Regions from separate parts of the Homo sapiens genome. Here region 2 is linked to region 1. A link means that fine-mapping ties the variant in region 1 to the plasma level of a protein whose gene starts in the linked region. Region 1 holds a variant in brackets. A gene starts in the other region. All regions are shown on one strand. Distances are from middle to middle.

Evidence for each region. PIP is the posterior inclusion probability: the model's chance that the variant is causal. The UK Biobank Pharma Proteomics Project read protein levels with antibody pairs (Olink). The fine-mapping took linkage between variants from a reference panel, not from the people measured, so its PIPs are less certain.
Region 2: it holds the start of NOTCH2, and the variant in region 1 is fine-mapped to the plasma level of the NOTCH2 protein (UK Biobank, PIP above 0.99).

The regions. Positions count from the first base shown.
Region 1 is chr1:148,316,532-148,324,868 of GRCh38, reverse strand. It overlaps LOC105371225 (a long non-coding RNA gene), which reads left to right and starts at 7,453. Exons shown (of 5, transcript XR_007066561.1): 1 at 7,453-8,337. RefSeq lists an enhancer at 5,810-5,859. The variant C/T (reference allele first, on the strand shown) is at 4,147.
Region 2 is chr1:120,066,502-120,074,774 of GRCh38, reverse strand. NOTCH2 (notch receptor 2) reads left to right here and starts at 5,113. Exons shown (of 34, transcript NM_024408.4): 1 at 5,113-5,441. The coding sequence starts at 5,369. LOC101929178 (a long non-coding RNA gene) reads right to left here and starts at 4,947. Exons shown (of 2, transcript XR_254374.4): 1 at 4,764-4,947.

The DNA of each region.
Region 1 (8,337 bases):
GCACTTTGGATTTGGTTTTGACTTGGTTTAAATTGCTTGACAGGACTGGTCTTGGGAACTTGCCTACTCCATTTGAGTGGAAGCGTGGCCTGATCACCCACAATGTGCCTGTACCGGCACTTTGGTTTTTGTTTTTGACTTGACTTAGATTGCCTGATACTTCGGTTTTGGTTTTGACCTGGCTTGGATTTCTGGATACTCTGATTTTGGTTTTGATTTTGGTTTGGTGTAAACTGCAGAAGTGTGTGTGTGCCCTTTTTACCTGTTTTTTGTTTTGTGGTGTGTGGCGTGTGGTGTGAGCGTGGTGTTTTGTCTTGAAGAAACATGGGTCAGGCACAAATAAGCCCCCCCCACTAGGAACTATGTTAAAAAATTTCAAGAAAGGATTCAATGGAGACTATGGAGTCACTATGACTCCAGAAAAACTTAGAACTTTATGTGAAATAGACTGGCCAGCATTAGATGTAGGTTGGCCATCAGAAGGAAGCCTGGACAGGTCCCTTGTTTCAAAGGTATGGCATAAGGTAACCTCTAAGCCAAGGCACCCAGACCAGTTTCCGTACATGGACAGTTACAGCTGGTTTTAGACCCCCTTTCCCTGCCCGCAGTAGTTAAGAGAACAGCAGCATAAGCAGCTGGCAGAGGCAAGTAAAGACCATCAGAGAGAAAAAGAGGCCATCTATACCAATTCTAAGTTAATTTAGACTAAACAAGGTCTTATTAATAGCAAAGGACAATTGAAATCCCAAACTTACAAGGTTTTCTACAAAAGTGAAGTTTGCTAAAAGTTAACAGTGTAACATGTATTATGGTAACTTCTAATCTTGTGGCCTTAGACAGTCTATCCAAAGACATAAAGAAAGTTCACTTTAAAAAAGGAAAAAAAAGGAGGAAGCAGAATTTATACAAACAAAAAGTTATGTGGTAAATTCTTGTCCTGAAATAAATTAACTGGTTGTTTAAAGAAAAAAGTGTTTGTAATAAGTCAGAAAGTTGAGACATGTTGAAAAATTGTCTGTGGAAGTCGTGAAAGAAAAAAAGTTATAAAAAAATTTTATGCAAACAAAGTTGTATAATTTAAAAGTAATAAGGCCTCCTGAGTACTATTAAAGAAACAGTTTATGTGCAAGGTGTATAAGAAAACTAAAATATACCTTTGGTAAAAAGATTATAAGGAGGCATTAAAAAAAAAAGTCAGTTTGACCATGAGGTAAGAGTTCCAAAAACCTTTCATAACCTTTTATACTTTTGTATTAAGGAGTAGATAAATGCTCTAGAAGACCCTGATATTGCAATACACGAGCCCAGATGTTGGCCTTGCATCAGTGTGCTCCTGACTGTAATGTCTAATTTATAGAAAATCTCTGAATTTGAGAGGCCAGAGTGTGTGGATCACTTGAACTTAGGAGTTTGAGTCTAGCCTGGGCAATATGGTGAAACATTGTGTCTACCAAAAATACAAAAAAAAAAAAAAAAAAAAAAAAAAAAGAAAGAAAGAAGAAAGAAAAGAAAAGAAAGAAAGGGAAAGAAAAGAAAGTCTCTGAACTAAACTTATCCCTCAAACTCCAGCCTACAATTCTCACGTGCCCACCTCTTCTGTCTAGAGGAAGAGGGGGCATGAGGTGGAAAACGGGACATGTGGGATTGTTGGGCCTAAAGGGATTGAATGGTTTCAATTTCTGGTTCTGTGTCTTGTGAAAGCAGTTCATTTTGTTTGTCATCTTCCCCAGAGTCTGAAGACAAGGCATTAATTGGTGTCAATATTCAGGATTTAGAAGGAGAAGCTGCCTTTTTCAGACCCAGGAGACAAAGCCCTGTAAGCTAATAGCATAAGGATTAGTTAATAGGACATTTGTACTGCAGAAAGTTCTATTTCTCTCTAACGTGTCACCGATAAAAACACTATGATCTGCTGTCCAGTAGTTACTGCCTGCAGCACTTCAAACCATCGTATTAAAGTGGTTAGGATACTCCTTGCATGTAACTAATTGCCAGCATTCTAATGACAGAACTGTGACCGAAAGCATCAAAAATGTGACAGAACCTATGCCAAACTTTTCAAAGTAAGACAATTAAATTTTCTCTCCATCATTTAACAAAATACTAAATGCAAATATCAGTTTTGGAAATTCAGTATGAGGATAAATAATCTCCTTTTATTTAAATATTATACAACAAAACAAGAACAAAGTGAGAATAAACACACAGTCAGTTTTTTTTTGGCTATTTTATTTATTTATTTATTTTGAGACAGAATCTCCCTCTGTCACCCAGGTTGGGGTACAGTGGCAGGATCTCAGCTCACTGCAACCTCTGCCTTCAAGTTCCAGGTTCAAAGGATTCTCCTGCCTCAGCCTCCTGAGTAACTGGAATTACAGCTGTGTACCACCATGCCCAGCTGATTTTTGTGTTTTTAGTAAAGATGTTTTGCCATGTTGGCCAGGCCTTGAACTCCTGTCCTTCAGTGATCTGCCTGACTCAGCCTCCCAAAGTGCTGAAATTATAAGAATGAGCCACCACACCCATCTTTCTTTTCAGCTATTTTAAAAGAGCATAATCACATATTTCCAAGGTTGGTTTCTCGATGTGGTACTCATAACTGATTAGGTTGCTTTCACCATTAAAATCTTCAAACCAGTGCAACAATTTACATGTTTTGTTTTCAAGTACACACATGAAAGCCCAACAGTGATACAAGGCTTGGTATCAAAAATCACTAGAAATTCTCACAGCTTGTTTTTATTACCACTTCATCCAAGTGAATGTCACTTAATTTTAATAATGCTAAACACAACTGAAGGAGGTTGAGAGAAATCCAATCAACATAATATCCTTAAGGACAAGGCCAATCTTTCTGGATGTTGGAACTTTGTACCCACATCACAGTTTTTCCTCATTAAAGGAAAGGGTCTGCAACCAACTCAAATGATTGATTGCAAGTCTTCCCTTGTCCAGTATAGACAGCTTTTGTGTCTAACTCTACCTCAGCAGCTGGCCTATACCTGGGGCCAGCTATAGGCCAGGGTTGGAAGGGTTCCTTGCTCCAACATCAGTGGTAGATGCCTTTTGTTTCATGTGAGAGAAGCAACCAGATTTTGTGCCTGTACTCTAGTGGTGGCCAATCATGACCTATATGCCTCCACCACTGTGGCAAGCTCAAGAAACTCTCTTTCCCTGCCACATGTGTCTTTTCAGCACTTAGGATGTGAGAGGAAAGACCCAGCAAATGGGCAAAAACCATGCTATGTATCTGGAACTCTCAGACTAAGCTGTCACAATAGTTCACACTTGGCCTTTAAGAAACGATAAAAACTTCAGTGTTTGGTTTCCTGTTTCTGCATTAGCTTGCTAAGATAATGTGCACTGCTTTTGACCTGGCGCAGTCATTCACATGTCTGATCTCAGCACTTTGGGAGGCGGAGGTGGGTGGATCATGAGGTCAAGAGTTCGAGACCAGCCTGGCCAGTAAGGTGAAACCCTGTCTCTACTAAAAATACAAAAATTAGCTGGGCATGGTGGCTTGTGACTGTAGTCCCAGCAACTCAGGAGGCTGAGGCAGAAGAATCACTTGAACGTAGGAGGTAGAGGTTGCAGTGAGCTGAAAACGTGCCACTGCACTCCAGCCTGGTGACAGAGCTAGACTGCATCTCAAAAAAAAATTATATATATATGTATATATATATACATATATATACATATATACATATATATACATATATACATATATATACACATATATACATATATATAATAATGTGCACTTCTTTGAATATTTTACCCTTTTCTGCCCATTAAACCATTAGAGCTGGCATTTCCTTTTCTATCCCATCTGAGAGACTTAAGTGCATTGTAATTTGCAGCAATTAGTATTATATTGGAGATGACGTCTCATTCCCACCACCTCATTGTATGATTTCTGCGTTTTTGCTTTGTTTATAAAATCTCTTCCTGCCTTTCTTAACTAGACTGGTCTGTCTGGGTAAATTTTCTGTTTTTCTGTAGTGTTTTTGAAATCCATGTCCCTGATTAGTTAATATGTTTTCTTAGATCTCAGGTGCACAGGGAGAAGGTAATCATGTACCTTAGCTCAGGGCACATTATGGTGGCTGCTTTGAGCAAGGCCCTTACTGTCTTTCCTTCTTTTCT[C/T]TGTTTATCCCACTCCCATTTCCCTGTCCACTTCCAGAAACACGTTCTGAGGAGTTTAGTATATGCTCTTTTATCTCACACTTTCTCTGCATATTTCAATAAGGAGATGTCTTCAGAAAACATACATTGTTCTTTGGGGATGGAGGATGTTAAAACAACTTTAAAGTGTGAATTGGTTTCCAAAAACCCATTCCATCCTCTTTACTCCATTCTGTGTACTATCTTCTCAACTTTTCTATTCAAATAGAAAAGTTTGTGTATAAATGTGGGGAGGAAGAAAAGAGTCAAGCCAATGTAAAATGGGCAAAACACTTGAACAGTGTTTGTTTACCAAAGAGAATTTCTTAATGGCCAAATTGCATAAGAAAGGATTCTTGGCATTATTACTCATTCAGGAAACACAAATTTAAAATGCCATGATACTCCATAACACACTCATCAGAATGGGTAACATTTAAGAGACAGGGAAAGCCACTGGCTTATAAAAATGCAGAGCAACTGTAACTCTTGTTGCTGGCAAGAGAATGCAATAGTATTGGTGGGAGTGGTGGCTCACGCCTGAGATCCCAGCACTTTGGGAGGCCGAGCTAGGTGGATCACTTGAGGTCAGGAGTTTGAGATCAGCCTGGCCAATGTGGTGCAACCCCATCTCTACTAAAAATACAAAAATTAGCTGGGCGTGGTGACAGGCACCTGTAATCCCAGTTACTTGGGAGGTTGAGGTTGAAGTAGGAGAATTGCTTGAACCCGGGAGGCAGAGGTTGTAGTGAGCAGAGATTGTACAATTGCACTCCAGCCTGGGTGACAAAGTGAGACCGTCTCAAAAATAAAATAAAATAAAACAAAACAAAATAAAAGAGAATACAATAGTGCCACCATTCTAAAATACTGTCTGATAGTTTCTAATACAGTTAAAAATACACCCACTTCATGACCCAGCCATTCCATTGCTGGGTTCATGCTCAACAGAATTGAAGGCACAGGCCCATAAAGAGACCCATAATAGAATATTTGTAAACACCTTATTCACAATAGCCCAAACTAGAAATATCCCAATTGTCTATCAACTGTAGTATACTCACATGTTGGAATAACACTCATTAATAACAGCAAAGAGCTGAGATACATGTCATAAAATGGAAGCATCTCATAACAATTGTTGCATTTAAAAAAAGAAAAACACAGGCAAAATCAGTATAGTCCTTTACGTGATTTCTACAAGAAGTAAAAGTATACCACAGAGATAGAAATCAAATAGTGATTGCCTAAGTGGGGATGGGGTGAAGATTGACTGAAAAGGGGTTCTCACGACCTTTTGGTCTGTTGAAAATGTGCTGTAACTTGATCTAGGTGATGGTTTTTTTTGTCAAAATGTACTGGGCCACGCACTTAAGATTGGTGCACTTTGGTCTCTGCGGATTATACTTCAGTCATTTATTGGTAGCAAAAAATAAATAAATAAAAACAAAATTAAAAATTGGGGTTGGAGAATGTCATTAACTTTAGATTTTACTGTATTCGTTAGGTTTTACTTAAAATACCCAGTTGGAGTGTGAACTCTCATCTTCTCTTGTTCATTTCTGATTTGGCCTGAAAAGGCCCCACGGATTCTTGAAATATCTGAGTCAGAACAGCGGGTACAGCCATATCATGTCAACAGTAAAAGATTCCAATAAGGCTGACTGAGAGGGGGCATCTCATCTTTTGGGTGTTGTACTTGCTCAGAGAGGAGGCAAAAGTCTTTCAAGATAACCGGACCCCTAGGCATGCAGCGTAGGGGTTCCTTCTATTCTCAACACTACCGGGAGTTCCTAAGCCACAGGAAAGTTGTGACCTTTCTAGCCGCAGGTCAGAGGCTCAGCCTAGGCTGAGACTGGAGGCGAAAGGGAAAGAAGAGCACTACACCCTAGAATGGATGTGGCCATGACTCGGATTGGAGACAAGGCTGCTGGGGCCACAGCGCAGAGTACTAACCACAATACGATCACCGCAAGCCACAGGAGCTGAAGGGCGCCGGGCTCTTTGTTTAAACGTAATGCAGGGCTGCTTCCTTTTTGGAGACCTAAGGGTCCGCGTAGATTTCGTTCGTTCTTGGTGTCTCTCCGTTTTTCCCCCCTTTCTTCCCCATTCTGCTACAATAAAAAAAACACTTCTCATCTCTCCCTTGTGCAGTCCTTACCGCTGCACAAAGCTACTGGAAAGTTTCTTCTTCCTGGTCCACGCCTCTACCGACTTCCTTGCCCTCCTCCTCGCAATTCCCTGTTGGATTCACCCCTTGCCCGGCTCCGGCCTCCTGCGCAAGACAGGCACCCAAAAACAGTGCAGCTGAGTCCCCGCAGCTCCCTGCCTAAGAGTGGCAAGAGAGGCCACTGGAGGCCTCGCCGCTTGCGCGCCCCACAGGATGCCCGATAAAGCAATCGGAAAAAATGCTTTTTAAAAAGAACCTACTTCCCCTTCGTGACGAGCCCCGGCAACATGTCGAAATCCTGTATCTACAAAAAATACAAAAATTAGCCGGGCGTGGTGGCGCTCGCCTGTCGTCTCAGCTACTTGGGGGCTGAGGCAAGAAGATCACTTGGCCCCGGGAGGTCGAGGCTGCAGTGAGCCTTGTTTGCACCACTGCACTCCAGCCTGGGGGACCAAGTGAGACCCTGTCGCAAAACAAAACAAAACAAAACTTCCCCACAGAAAAATAGTTCATGATTTACATTCTCAGGACTCTTCAAAGGACTAAAAGTTAAAGGCGACAATGGATTCACTCGACGAGTCTTAGTCCTGCGCCCTGGTGAATGGCAGACCCTGCTCCCTGCGAGGGGATCACGAGGAACTCTCACCACCATCCCTGCCCTGGTGGAGCCCGCCTGCGGACACAGGATCCGAAGATGGCAGCGGAAGCTCTGCAGCGGCCCCTAAAGCGATTGGGCAGTGTGGGCACAGGCTCCCTCACGGGGTGAAGGCGGCGCAAAGAACTGGAAGAGCCATCCTGGGAGCCCACCGGGCATTCAGCTTCCCTTGGGCCCCCAGGCGGCTCGGGCCCGGGTCGCAGACTGGGGCGTTTCCGGGGGCTTCTGAAGCAGGCGAGGGGCAGGGCGGGCGAAGGCCATTCGGCTGTCCTTCTGGCTCCAGAATCTCCCAACCCGCGGGTGTGCAACGTGATCAGCGCGACTCACCGCTCTAATGTCTCCGGTTTTCCCTCCTGAGGGGCAGGCCCTCAGGACAAAAGGGATGGGGAGAGTTTGGTGAGTGTGCCCTGCACGTAGCGCCCGGTAGAATCAGTAGCAGCGGTCTCTGTTGCGCAATCAGCGCGTTTGGCTGTTAACAGAAAGGCTGGTGGTCCGAGCCCAACCAGGGACTCCTCGCTTTGTTGTTTTAACCCATTTCTGTTGATATACAATCAACTCCAGCCTAATCAGGAGACACACATGTCCTCTTCCCCACCTTCTTAGGTCTGAGGCTTGGCAAGGCCCATGGTGCCTTGTACCTGTCAAACTCAAGAATCCCAGAGACCTTAGACAGGAACTCACTTCTGGTGTGATAAAAATGTTCTTTGCTCCCATGGAAGACTTGGGGGAGTAAAGTGCCTCTAGTTTTTCATGTTTAATAATAGGAGACCTATTACAGTAGTATTCTGTCCCCGGATGTGCCTGGGTTTAAGTAATTCCTCTATCAATAATGTGACCAGTGGAATCAGTCATCCTCATGGTGATCCTCGCCATTGTTTGTGAAAACAGCATTTCTTCCTCTGTTTGTGCATGATTTAACCCTTTTCAAGATGTTTTTGAAATGAGGTGGGTTTCATGGCTTTAGGATTACAAATGATGCCGCAATCTCCACTATTCTTGTACACATATCTTTGGACACTTGTGCAGATATTTCTATAGTGTAGAGAGGAGGATGTGCCATTTTTACATTACAACATTTATTTAATGCTTCTAATTTGAGTACATTCTGCAAATTTATCTTCCGTGGGAGCGATACCAAATCATATTCCAATTTGTTTCCCAATTCTATCAATGTCCCTTCTGTCATTTACTTGCCGGCACAACAAACGTTTCTACACATTGATGTATGATATTCCACTGAGAAGAGAGGCATCCTCCTGGCTTAACTGAGGGGGTGTACAACCGAAGGAAATGGTGGACATTACGCACAGATATTCTGCGGCTTAGGATGAGCTGCTAAACTTCTAGG
Region 2 (8,273 bases), 28 Mb after region 1:
TCACTGCAGCCTCAACCTCCTGGGATCAAGTGGTCCTCCCACCTCAGCCTCCCAAGTAGCTGGGACTAGAGACATGCATCACCATGCCCAGTTAGTTTTTTAATTTTTTGTAGAGACAGGGTCTCACTTTGTGGCCCAGGCTGGTCTTGAACTCCTGGGCTCAAGCCATCCTTCTGCCTTGGACTCCCAAAGTGTTGGGATTACAGGTGTGGGCCACTGTGTCCTTCCTTAACATCAATAAAATTGAGATAATCACATTCATAAAAGGGCAAAACTATGTCAACAAGCCCACTGTATTAGTCTGTCTTCACAGTGCTGTAAAGAACTGCCCAAGACTGGGTAATTTATAAAGGAAACAGGTTAACTGACTCACAGTTTAGCATGGCTGGGAAGGCCTCAGGAAACTTAACAATCATGGCAGAAGGCAAAGGGGAAGCAAGGTACCTTCTTCATAAGGCAGCATGAAGGAAAATTAATGCAGGAGGAACTGCCAAACACATAAAACCATCAGATCTCATGAACTCACTCATTATCAGGAGAACAGCATGGGAGAAACCGCCCCCATGATTCAATTACCTCCACCTGGTCTCTCCCTTGACACATGGGGATTACAATTCAAAATAAGATATTGGGTGGGGACACAGGCAAACTATATCGCCCATATTACAATTACTTACATTACTGATTCCCTTAATTAGAGCAGAGGTAATTAATTGGGTCTAGGCTCAGTGGAAGGGTCTGGCTGGTTCTTAATTCTCAGAGCTAGTTTGAATCTTGAGGTTAACTTCTTGCCTTCTAGAACTTGTCCTGTGTTTGGCTGAACTCTGTGAACCTTTCAGAAAGTAGGTCTTTATTGAGCACATACTCTGTGCAAGGCAAAGAACCAACTACTGTGGAGTTTACAAACATGAATAAGGGGTAAGAAATGACTCTTGTCACATGGCTTACAGTCCAGCTGTGTGGGCCACCACAGTTCATATCTTTCAGGATGGGGACTGGATGAGAGGAAAGTGGACTCAAAATTAATCCCAGTGCTCTCTACTTTCCCATATCCCTGTGCTTTATCTCTGTTGTAGTTATGTTATTTGTATGTTGGCCTGCCTCACTGCTCTGTGATCTCCAAAGAACAGGGACTGGGTTTTATTTATTTCTGCATTGCCGCAGAGCCTAGTATGTGCTTTGTAGAGAACAGGCTCTCAAAAAAATTTTAAATTAAAAGAATTTATTCACTTGTTTATGTTTCCTAGTTACAGTGGGTCAGCTTGTTCTGTGCTAACATGGAAGTGACAAGAAGCTGGTGTCCCTCTACACAGAGGTCCCCACACTAAATATCATCTTGGATGTGCTTCACATTGTTGCACAAAGGTACAGTGGAGTGAGACTGAGTAAGAGGACAGAAATAGTGGGGGGTTTGTCTCAGCTCACTAATTACTTATTTAACCTTGGGCAAGATACTTAAAGCTCTATCTCAGTTTCTTCATCTGCAAAATGGGTATAATAATGACTGGGGTGCCTATTTCCCACGATTGTTTTGAGGATCAAATGAGATAATATAATTAAAAGTGTTTTTGGAAGGTCTAAATCACTGCGCAACTGCAAGGCATTATTAAAAGAAATCTTCCTTTTAATTCCTGCTTCCACAAACATCTCATCACATATCCTTGGGTTCCTGGGTTACATGGAGAGATTCGTGGTGTAGCTCAATCTATGTGTCATAGCTATCCCACAATCTCTTCTTCAACTTCTCCAACACACCAAGACATTCTTCCAGTCTTGCATTGTTCCCCAGTTTATATAGATATATATGTTCCTCATTCAGCATTTATGTAAAACATATATTATTGAGCACTTATGTGATAGAAACCGAGGCAAAACAGAAAATAAAACAGAGTTTTATTTTGAGAGTTTTTTTTACAGCTTATCGGCTCTGAGAGGACAGACATGAGAACAAATAAGTGCCCAATTCTGCATTTATTTTGGAAGGCAGTTTTATGTGAGTTTAAATCAGTAAAGACATAGATGTATATTTTTAGTTTTGATTAAAACTAAAACAATTGGTAGCCCTTATTCATATTTTTCTATCATTAAAACTTATCTTTAAAAAATGTCTTCAGTCATATTTTTCCCTTACTTCCATTCATATTTACTCTTTACTTCTCTTGTCCTTACCAGAATGTATGCAGTAAGTTTTCATATTGTAACATATTCAACAAAAGTTATATGTGAACATAATAGCTGCTTTCTTTAAAACGGTTACTTTGAGAAACTGCATACCTATTTTTTTTTTTTTTTTTTTTTTGAGACGGAGTTTCACTCTTGTTGTCCAGGCTGGAGTACAGTGGCACGATCTTGGCTCACTGCAATCTCTGCCTCCTGGGTTCAAGTGATTCTACTGCCTCAGTCTCCTGAGTAGCTGGGATTACAGGTGCTCGCCACCATGCCCGGCTAATTTTTGGTATTTTTAGTAGAGACGGGTTTTCAACATGTTGGCCAGGCTGGTCTCAAACTCCTGACCTCAGGTGATCTGCCCACCTCAGCTTCCCAAAGTGCTGGGATTATGACATAAGCCGCCACGCCTGGCCTGCACATTTATTTTAATAATGTTGTCATAGCTACAGTCGCTTCTAGAGTTGCTCTTTGGGGATAACTATCTTATATTCTTCTGAATATATTTTAATAGTGACAAAACTTATCTTTGCAGGTGATTTTTAAAATTTGTATGCAGCCAAGTCACTATGAATTATCTTTAGTGAGTAAAGAGGAAGATCGAACTGGTAACACTGTGGGTAAACAACTGAAAAATAATGTTATCTTTCTCTGAACATACTTGCACAAGACAAATTCCAAAAATATTTTGACTACATTATTTTTGAAAAGGGTTTCCAGTATTTCAATGTGACTACTTTCACTAATGGTACTTGCTTACCTAAAGTGCTTGTTAACATGCAGTTTTGGAACTTCATAGGTCTATGCCCATACTGACTTGTACTTGCTTAGTGTTGTTTCACATTCTAGTTCAACATCTATTATGTGATAGACACTGGGGATTAATAGGCTGTGGTCTTTGCCCATGAGGACCTCAAAACTTAGTTGAGAACACAGAAATACAAAGAGTCCTGTGTGAAAAATAAGTATCGGTGTTAAGATAAAGAAGCGGCAGTGGAAGACAGTGGAGGGACTGTCTGTTAGGGGGAGGAATTTATTGCGGTGTCGGCAAAGCCTTCTTTGGACTGAAGGATGAATTATGATTAGAAGTTCATTAAGAGGAGGAGGGAAGGGGACTACAGGAGTCATTCCAAGCCAAAGGAACAAAAGATACAGGGACAGAAACAGCAAGATATGTTTGGGGGAATCTCAAGTTAGTCAATACTGTTATTGTGTGAAGTTCACAACAGGGGCAGGGAGGACAGGAGATGGGGCCCAATGACGAAAAGGCCTTGTATGTACCATGTTTAGAAGTTTGAATTTTATCCTATAGGAGTCAGGGAGAGGTTCTATGGGTAGGATTTCCCATCCCAACAGGATTGTAAACTCCCACATCCAATTAGTCACACCTCCATTTTTTTTTTCTGTTTCTTTAACATTGTCTCGGATTCATTCCTTCTGAAATCTACCTTATTAGTTCAGGTCTTCTTAAATTTGTGCCTGGACTGTTCACCAACTCTTGACTGGTCCTGGGGCTCCAGTTCACCTCTTGCTCCCCCAACAATCAATTTTCTACAGAATTATCAGAGCAATCTTCCTTTCCATCAATCTCAACTCTGTTCAAAAACTTTCAATAGTTTTATGTGACCTAAGAGGTAGCTGCCTCCCCACCCTTTCAGCTTGCCATTCAAGGCTGCATAATTTGGTCCCAACCCCCTTTCCGTCCTTGACTCCTCTCACTGCTAACAGAGACAGAACTCATTTACTTACTCTTTTGACTGTACCTTTGCTTTCACGAGGGCTCTTTCCTGGAATGATATGTCCATACAACTATTGTTGCTGTTCTTACTTTTAGCTCTTTTCTTAGAAGCCCACTTGTACCCAGGTTTGATCACACCCCCTACTCTCCTGCCCTGGAAGTAACTACTATTCTGGTTATAGTCTCTTAATATCTATATCTATATATATGCATCCACAGATAATGTGTAGTATTGTCTTGAAAAAAATATACATAAATGGTATACTTTGTCTCCCTCTGTGATTAGTTTTTTCACTATCATTTAGTTTTTAAGATTTATCCCTATTGACATAAATAGCTATAGTCTTTTCAATTACTGTGTTGCATTTCATTTTATAAATATACCATACATTATTCATCCATTCCTCTAAGGGTGGGCATTTATGTTGTTTTCAAGGTTTTGCTATTACAGTGTTACAACGAATATCCTTAGCTTAGCTGGTCTCCTTGTCTTATACAAATTTTACTGACCTTTCAAGATCCTGCTTTCATCCCAGCTCCTCTGGGAAAGCCTTCCCTGAATCCCCCAGCCCACAGCGGCAAAGTCTTGGTACTCAAAGTTGCTTGTGCATCTTTGGTATCATCCCACTGCCAAGCACACAGCTACGCAAAGTAAGGCACTTAAGAAATATTCGCTACACGGATGAACAAATGAATGAATGAATGGGGCAGCACCACTCCGTGATGGCTCTATTCCTTTTTAATGGACTTTGGCGCCTTGGCCCACTTTCCTTCTTTGACAGCACTGGTCCTACTCCAGAGCATTCCTCTAGCTAGCAAAGCAGTGTGTGGATGTGTGGGTGTAGGTGGCGATACAGACCTCACTGGATGAGGACCGCCTCTCCCTGCAAGTTCACGATCCCGGCAAACTCCAGTGCTTGAAGTTCAGAGTCCTACCCCACCCCCCTCACCCCCACGCCCCTTCTGCACTGGTCAAGCCAGCGAGCCGCTGCAGCCCTGATCGAGTTAAGGCGCGGCGGCCCCCGGGGCCGCTGGAGAAGGATGCGGACGGGGCCAGTGACTCGTAGTAGATCCCTCCGCGCGGAGCTCGGGCCGGCGCTTCTTCCTGCGGGAAACCCCTGGGTGCCCAAGGCGGCGGGGCCGAGGCCGCGGCGACAGTGGGGCGGGGCTTGCGGTGGGAGGAGGCGGCTGAGGCGGAAGGACACACGAGGCTGCTTCGTTGCACACCCGAGAAAGTTTCAGCCAAACTTCGGGCGGCGGCTGAGGCGGCGGCCGAGGAGCGGCGGACTCGGGGCGCGGGGAGTCGAGGCATTTGCGCCTGGGCTTCGGAGCGTAGCGCCAGGGCCTGAGCCTTTGAAGCAGGAGGAGGGGAGGAGAGAGTGGGGCTCCTCTATCGGGACCCCCTCCCCATGTGGATCTGCCCAGGCGGCGGCGGCGGCGGCGGAGGAGGAGGCGACCGAGAAGATGCCCGCCCTGCGCCCCGCTCTGCTGTGGGCGCTGCTGGCGCTCTGGCTGTGCTGCGCGGCCCCCGCGCATGGTGAGTATCGGGCTGAGGGGCGCTGTCCGCGGCGCCCGGGGCTGCCACCTGGGGCGACCCTTCTCCCCCTCGGTCCTTCTCTGTGTGGGAAGGCCAGGCTCGGCCGCCGGCGCGGAGCGAGGCCACTCGCTGGGTTCCCAAGAGTTTGGACATCGCCGGGGGCCCCTCCCGTGGTGCCCCGCCAACCGCCGGGGTTCCCCGCCGCCTCTGCTCCCCGCGGCCCGGGACCCCTTACACGCCTCCTCGGCAGGAGGGAGGCCGGCAGCAAGTCTCAGAAACTCCTTTTTCGTAGTGCCAGGGTGCAGGGAGGTGGGCAGTTTTGCCCTTCAGGTTCCGCGTTTCTTGGGGTCGAGCGAGAGCCGACGGCGGGCCTCGGAGGGGCTGAGCGAAGGAATGCCAGATTCTGGCGTGGAGAGCGGGGGCAGGGCCGCCAAGCCAAACGGCCTGCACCGTCGCAGCCAGCCTCGCCTTTGCCAGGGGGCGGCACATGGGCCGGGTGTGTGGGCTTGGTTTGGATGGGGACGGGGTTTTGCGGCGCGCCTGAGTTTTGACACTCCAACCCCACCGAAAGTCCGGGGGAGCCGTGTGTGCTGCTCGCGTCTTTGAAAGGTGGAGGCAGGAGAAGTAGGGCAACTGGTGTGGCTGCATGCTGAGGCACATGATTTAAAAATCTCAACTGCTGTTATTCTTTCCGAGGCGCGGAGCTCTGCTGCTGTTTCAGGCTGTGTCCAGACCCAGGAATGTGGTGTGACGATCACCAATTCCTCCAACCTGGCAGCAGCATTTGCTGCTCCTTTGGCATGGCTGGGGGTGGGGCACGGGCGGGTGAGAAAAAGTGGATACGTTAATTCAAAGGGCTTCCTTAGAAAGCTTCTTTATGGTTGGATGTTTCTAACACGGTTGGACCAAGGAAAGGGAATCAAATCATATCTTCCCCATCCCACCCACACTTTTAGATTCTACATTTCTTCAGACCCTTTAGTGGAAATAACTTGGGCTTTGGAGCCCTGCTCTGTAATCCTGGATTCAAATCCAGCTCTGCTATATGAACTCACCAATAAAATGGGAAAGAAATTATCCAGCTAATAGGATTAATTAAAATAATGTATATTAAACGGATGACACTCCAAAGGTGTTCAGAAAGTCCTTTCAGGGCCGAGGCTGTGTTTTACTGCTTCTGAGATTGATGCTCCCAGTGGGATGCTGTCTTGTGCATATTTGTTGAACGGAAAGCAGCCCCTTCTTTTTCTGAGCCTAATCTGAATAAAGATTTTTACCTTCACCAAAAAACTAGTACATGAACTACATCTGTTTTCAAAGAAAAGGTTAGGAAGATGATGAGCTTCAGAAAAATATGGTCTTTGTTCATTGTTAACAGTCAGTCGACATGTCAATCGCAGATGTTTAAAAAGAGAACAAGGTTATTTATCACCCGAAAATAGTACTGGGTTGTTCAGCACCAACTAGATACTTCTTGGAAAGTTCAAATTTCGTACACGTCTAGGTCACTAAGAATTTCAGAAGTGGACCAGGAGGCTTTGTAGTGATGAAGCAGAGCCGTTGTTTCTGAAGCATTTAATAAAGAGCATATATGATGGTGTTTTTGCTTTTCCTTTTTCTTTGAGTGAAAGCTTTAAGTGTAGCTTTAGGATAGAGAGGAGTATGATCAATGAGACAGTCTGAGGGTAATAATCCTTGGTCTATCATTAACTTGTTTTGGTAAATAACTTAATCTTCATGATATGTAGTCTCCTCACCTATGAAGCAGGACTAAAGGAATAACCTGCTTTAGAGAATTGTAGGGAATAATAAATATAATTGTAAAGTGATTTGAAAAATTAAGTATTAAATAATATGATATCAGAAATGGGATTACTCTGACACATAGGGCTTCTTTTATTATAGGATCTCAGTGCATAAAACTATGCCCTCCACCTCTGCTCTGCTGAGGTGCTGCGATTATTAGCTAGCTTTTAGGTAGTCAAGTTGAGTGTTAGTCAAGTTGACTCAAAGGATAGGATTTAGATATTTTGATTTTTAGACAGGTGTTCTTTAGATGCTAAACTAATGCAGTAGAAGAGATTTAGAAGCCGTTTCTCGGTACAAATCTTAAATCTTCTTAGAGTCTACAGTGAAGGCTTCTTGAATCCTCTTAATTTATTATTGTGTTTTGCTAAGGTACCAGTTGCAGCACACCCTTCTAAACTTTTGAGTGTTCCTGTGTTTGGCTTGTGGCCAATTGTTAATTTAAACATCACGGAGTTTCTAAGGCAAGGAGATGTTAGCAGTATGTCTGATTGTCTAAACAGCTATCCAGGACCATCCTCTTGCTCCTTGTTTTCTTTTGCTTTGCAATGGGAAGTGACTCCCTGATTTTGCTGCCTGCTAGATAATTTCTCAGCTGAATTCTTCTCTTGCTTAAACAAAATCGGAGTAATTTTCTTTCAGATGGTGATGAAATTTAACCTAAAACTATTTTTCCTTTCACTTTCTTATTATTCCTTTTTTTTTGGTGTGGTGGAGAGGAGGAGGAGAGTGATTCCTAGTCTCTCTTATTTTTCTGAATGTTTAGATTTAAAAAATATTTACCCATAACTTCTTGGGATCTCTCTGCTCCATTCCCACCCTACTGCCTCTCCTGTAGGCTTCTATGACATAGAGGAGCAACTTTTGGTTCACCTGGATTGTAGTTGCTGACTTCAGGACCTTTAGAGAATGTTTAAATTCAGTGGGATATGCTTGGATGGTTCAGAGCAGCCTTACAATACATCTTAAAAATATCACACCCACAGAAATTCTATTTTGCCCACAAAATTTGCATTGATCTAGTTC